Linked DNA regions of Homo sapiens: region 2 is linked to region 1. The links come from fine-mapping of genetic effects on gene expression. A gene starts in region 1. The other region holds a variant in brackets. All regions are shown on one strand. Distances are from middle to middle. Region 1 holds the start of RPF2 (ribosome production factor 2 homolog). Region 2 overlaps RPF2 (ribosome production factor 2 homolog).

Region 1 (2,918 bases):
AGCTAGGGCTGGGAGGTGGCCCACAGCCTGTAATAAAAACACTCTAGGAGGCCAAGGTGGATGGATCACTGAGCCCAGAAGTTCGAGACCAGCCTGGGCAACAATGCAAAACCCTGTCTCTACAAAAAATACAAAAATTAGCTGTGGTGGTGTGCGCCTATAGTCCCAGCTACTCAGCAGGCTGAGGTAGGAGGACTGCTTGATCCCAGGGAGGTCGAGGCTGCAGTGAGCTGTGATGGGGCTACTGCACTCCAGCCTGGGTGACAGAGTGATACCCTGTCTCAAAAAAAAACAAATTTTTTAAAGCTAGATTTAAAAATTCGTCTAGACCAATTACCCTGTAAAATATGAAGGGAAAATAAATTCATTATTCTGACTTTATGATGTGACAGTAGGAGTGGCATGTTTTTACACACTTCTGTTCAAAAGAGGGGCTTCACCTCTGCTTCCTCTACAATGAGCACCTTGCTTTTCAGACAGTTCTCTGCCATCTACTGAAAGAATTCTTCCTCCCAAATAATTATGACCCTCCCTCGTCCAGTCCCATGGACACTTTGGGAAGAAAAAGAGACCATACATACACTTAAGTTTCCCATGTAGATTTTTAAAATACTCCTCCAGATATAATGTCACATATAAAGCTTCTGATCATTTACTGGTTGATAAAGATACAAATTATTCTATCTTTTGTATCTCATTAAACAGCAACAAATGCAAATAGCAATTAACATGTTTTATTAGCTGCCTGCTCCCAATTAACGTGTGAACTAGTCCCAATACCTAGTAAACTACTCTTTGTAGTCCAAACAGCTAGAGGCATAGCAGGTGTGCAAAATCTCTGAATGACTAAAACTGTCGTTTTGGATACATGTTAACTTAGGTAAATAGCAAGAAAATCACAGCAAGTAACAGCAGGGCTGTTTAGCCCAAATATTCTTGAACAAATTTAAAACAGGTATCATTCAAGGATAACTCAGAGGAGTGTACAAAGTTGGAAGGAAAAGAAAAAACTAATGAACATTTCTACGTGCTGCAGCAAAGGCTCTACATACATTCTCGAAACTAACCCTCACAGCTCTATGAAGTATGACTATGGTGAGCGCTATTTTACAGAATAAGCTAAGATTTAGAGATATTTAATGACCCAAAGTCACAAAGCTTTAAGTGGACGCGCCAGACTGTCACTCAGATCTGTCGGATTCCGAGGGCTGTGCTCCTAACCCCACTATACCATCTGTCTCATACTTCGGAAGTCAGACGTTTTTCAACTGGCTAGGATAAAAGCGGCCAACGCTTCAATCCCACATCCCTCCCATCCCACGGCTCCCACTTGAGAGCTTCCCCACTGTCTCCTGGCAAGCAGCTCGCGCTGAGGAGGACCCGGGCTGGTGATCGATCGGCCCCCACCCAGGTAATTAGAGGGGTAACCAGGAAGAGTGAGAGGCCGAGACAGTACCACCCTCATCACGGGACCCTTTCACCCCAACGCTCCCCGGGGCTGAGACCCAGCGCACTTACACTACTCGATCCAGAGTGTCCATCGCTACCGCTACCTGCAACTCTTAACCAGGGGGCATGCACGTGCCCTCGGCGATTACGTGCGCCGGAACAGGCGGAACCGGAAGCTGCGCGTAACGCCACTTCCGGGGACGGCCTCGTAGAGGGCGTCTAGAGGCGCTGGCGGCCATCTTGATTGGAATCGCGCCCTGTTGTCTTGGTTACGGATTTTTGCCCCGGCTCTTTCCTGGAGTTACAGGTGCGAGGTAATACTTTTAAGTAACACTGGCCGGGCGTGGTGGCTCACGCCTGTAATCCCAGGATTTTGGGAGGCCCAGGCGGGCGGATTACCTGATAACAGGAGTTCGAGACCAGCCTGGCCAACATGGCGAAACCCCGTCTCTACTAAAAATACAAAAATTAGCCGGGCGTGGTGGCGGGCGCCTCTAACCCCAGCTACTCGGGAGGCTGAGGCAGGGAGAACTGCTTGAACCCGGGAGGCGGAGGTTGCAGTGAGCGGAGATCGCGCCACTGCACTCCAGCCTGGGTGACAGAGCGAGACTTCGTCTCAAAAATAAAATAAAAATAAAATAAAATAACATAGACCCTCGCAGTTTGATGTACGCGCTAGTGTGCATACCTGGAGTCAGGTATTCAGAAACCAGATTTTATTCTTCAAGGAATCCCAGGATGCTAGAAAGGTTGATTGATTGCACGGTAGGTACTCACATAAGCACTAAAAACATTGATGTGAAAGGGGCACTATTGACAACTATGCGATCTGTGTGACAGAATTTATGACTACCACAGTTGCCTAGTACATAAAAGATGCGCAGAAAATGTACTGCTGTTCGTGATTTTTCCCCAGTTTTTAAGTTACCATATACTTCACATACCATAAAATGTACCCCTTTACAGTGTACAATTCAGTGATTTTTGGTGTATTCACAAAGATGTGCAAATATCACCACTAATTCCAGAATATTTAATCACCTCAAAAAGAACCCCCCTGACACACACACCCAGTAGCAGTCCATGCCCCACTTCCCCCTCCTGCCAGCCCTTGGCAACCAATAATCTACTTTATGTTCAATGGATTTGCCTATTCTGAACATATATAAATGGTTTCGTGCAACGTATGGCCTTTTGTGTTTGACTTCTTTCACTATCTTTTTGAGGTTCATACATGTAGCGTGGATCAGTACTTCCATTTTGTTAGGACTGAATAATATTCCTTTGTATGGATATACCACATTTTGTTTATCCATTTATCAACCTAGGTACTTTTTTTATTTTAGACATAGTCTTGCTCTGTCGCCAGGGCTGAAGTGCAGTGGTGCGATCTTGGCTTACTGCGCCGTCCACCTCCCGGGTTCAAGCAGTTCTGCCTCAGCCTCCCAAGTAGCTGGGATTACATGCAC
Region 2 (2,918 bases), 38 kb before region 1:
CCCCATAAGGCCTAACCATTGTGCAAAGGCACATGTGGCATTACTAACGATTTTGTTTCATATTAATGGCTCTGACTCCATAGTGAATAAAATTTCCCAACGGATATAAATAGTCACTCACATACAAGGAATAATTACTATAGGATGTATAGGAACAGTGGTCAATAACACTATGATTTATTCACCCAAAAGATCATGTTAAAGGTTATATTAATATAATTTCCTGTTTAGAGTTCCTTTCATCCAAAAAGCTCAAAACCATTTTATAAACCTCATTTATCTTCACAAATAAAGTGTGTGAATATTAAATATTACCATTTTCAAATTGCATAAGGGCTAATTTGCAGTAAGAGCGAGGGAAAGGGTTCCACAGTATAGCTAGCCCAAAGAATGCCTGGGGAGCCAAGTTAAGTCAGACATACTTTCTGGTATATGCCCATCTATGAGTACCCCTTTACTCTTATAAAGCAGTACTGTCAATCTTAGGGGGACCTCAGAATTATCTAAATGGTATTGCTATAGTTTACAGAGGAAGAAACAAAGACCCTGAGAAGTGGTGACCTGCCCATGTCACGTGGCTGAGCCCAGCTCAGAGCCAGGTCAGTAGGCTCAGAGGTGATGCTGAATCCCTGGACCACCCCTTCCTCCCATCCTCAATGCTCCCCAAGTGTGGCACAGCCTCTGGAAGCTAAGCTGATCCACATGTTTAGTGATTCTTTCAAGTAGCAGCTCACTCTCAATCACAGTGTCCATTTTTTATTTCAAATTAATAGCTAACAAGTATTACAAGGCACATATGGAACATCTAGTGATCAAAATTACATACTAGGGTCTCTGATTTTAAAATTTCAAACTTTTTTTCATTATGAAAGATGTCGTGCTAGTGTAAAGGTGATTCTAGCAATCAGATTTTTGGTGGATCTATGTATTATAGTTACACTGCTAGTTTTTTATTTTTGTTTTTATTTTTATTTTTTTGAGACAGAGTCTTGCTCTGTCACCAGGCCGGAGTGCTGTGGCACAATCTAGGCTCGCTGCAATCTCCGACTCCGTGGTTCAAGCAATTCTCCTGCCTTGGCCCCCTGAATAGCTGGGATTACAGGCATGCGCCACCATGTCCAGCTAATTTTTTGTATTTTTAGTATAGATGATGTTTCACCGTGTTAGCCAGGATGGTCTCGATCTCCTGACCTCGTGATCTGCCCACCTCAGTCTCCCAAAGGGCTGCTGGGATTACAGGGATGAGCCAC[C/T]GTGCCCGGCCTTACTGCTAGTTTATTCTTTTTTTTCTCTTTTTTTGAAATGGAGTCTCGCTGTCACCCAGGCTGGAGTGCAGTGGTGCGATCTTGGCTCACTGCAACCTCTGCCTCCCGGGTTCTCCTGCATCAGCCTCCTGAGTAGCTGGGATTACAGGTGCACACCATGTTGCCCGGCTAATTTTTATATTTTTAGTAGAGACGGGGTTTCACCATGTTGGCCAGGCTGGTCTCAAACTCCTGACCTCAGGTGATCCACCCATCTTGGCCTCCCAAAGTACTGGATTACAGGCATGAGCCACCACGCTGGGCCAGTTTATTCTTGCTCTAAAGTCTGACTTGATAATTCTCTATTTTGTTTTATTTTCTCTGTATCTTTCTTTACAAATAAACCCTTTTCACTAAATACAAGTGAATACTTTCTGCGAAACCGTTCAACACAGAAGAGTTTTAGGCTACTGTTACCACTCATTTCTTACTGTCAATGATTTTTTACCGTTATATTTTTATCTCCCTTGTATCCCCTCTATGTTTAACACAGAGGGCATACATACCCACCCGAGGCAGGAGAATCGCTTGAATGCGGGAGGCAGAGGTTGCAGTGAGCTGAGATGATGCCACTGTACTCCAGCCTGGGCAACAGCAAGATCCTGCCTCAAAAAAAGAAGTGTTCCAGGTCAGGCGCGGTGGCTCATGCCTGTAATCTCAGCACTTTGAGAGGCCAAGGCAGGTAGATCACGAGGTCAGGAGATTGAGACCATCCTGACTAACATGGTGAAACCCTGTCTCTACTAAAAATACAAAAATAAAATTAGCCGGGCGTGGTGGCGGGTGCCAGTAGTTCCAGCTACTTGGGAGGCTGAGGCAGGAGAATGGCATGAACCCGGGAGGCAGAGGCTGAAGTGAGCTGAGATTGCGTCACTGCACTCCAGCCTGGGCAACATAGCGAGACTCCGTCTCAAAAAAAAAACAAAAGAAAGAAAAGAAAGGTGTTCCAGATTTCTGGTTTTTTTCAGAGTTTGAAATACTTGCATACGTATAATGAGATATCTTGGGGATGAGATCCAAGTCTAAACACAAAATCCATTTATGTTTCATATACAGTTTATATACATAGCCTGAAGGTAATTTTATACAATTTTTATTTTATTTTATTACTTTATGTCTGAGATGGAGTTTCACTCTTGTTGCCCAGGCTGGAGTGCTCGGCTCACTGCAACCTCTGTCTCCCGGGTTCAAGCAATTCTCCAGCCTCAGCCTCCCGAGTAGCTAGGATTACAGGCGCCTACCACCATGCCTGACCAATTTTTGTATTTTTAGTAGCGACGGTGTTATGCCATGTTGGCCAGGCTGGTCTGGAACTACTGACCTCAGGTGATCCACCCGCCTCAGCCTCCCATGTGCTAGGATTACAGGTGTCCAGCCAACATAAGTTTAATTTTGTTTTGTTTTTTTCAGACAGTCTCACTCTGCCACCTAGGCTGGAGTGCAGTGGCACAATCTCAGCTCATTGCAACCTCTGCCTCCCAAGCTGAAGCAATTCTTGTGCCATAGCCGCCTGAGTAGCCGGGATTATAGGCGTGTGGCCCAGGCTCAAGCAATTCTCATGCCACAGCCTCCCAAGTAGCTGGGATTACAGGCGTGCGCCACCATACCCAGCTAATT

The links. PIP is the estimated chance that this variant, and not a neighbour inherited with it, causes the effect.
Region 2: its variant is the best candidate, but not a certain one, in a credible set for the expression of RPF2 in esophagus mucosa (GTEx, PIP 0.52).

What each region holds. Positions count from the first base shown.
Region 1 is chr6:110,980,730-110,983,647 of GRCh38, reverse strand. It overlaps RPF2 (ribosome production factor 2 homolog), which reads right to left and starts at 1,610. Exons shown (of 10, transcript NM_032194.3): 1 at 1,519-1,610. The coding sequence starts at 1,541.
Region 2 is chr6:111,019,228-111,022,145 of GRCh38, reverse strand. All of the region lies in intron 8 of RPF2 (ribosome production factor 2 homolog), which reads right to left. Among named protein-coding and RNA genes, the nearest start is that of RPF2, 39 kb to the right of the region's middle. The variant C/T (reference allele first, on the strand shown) is at 1,251.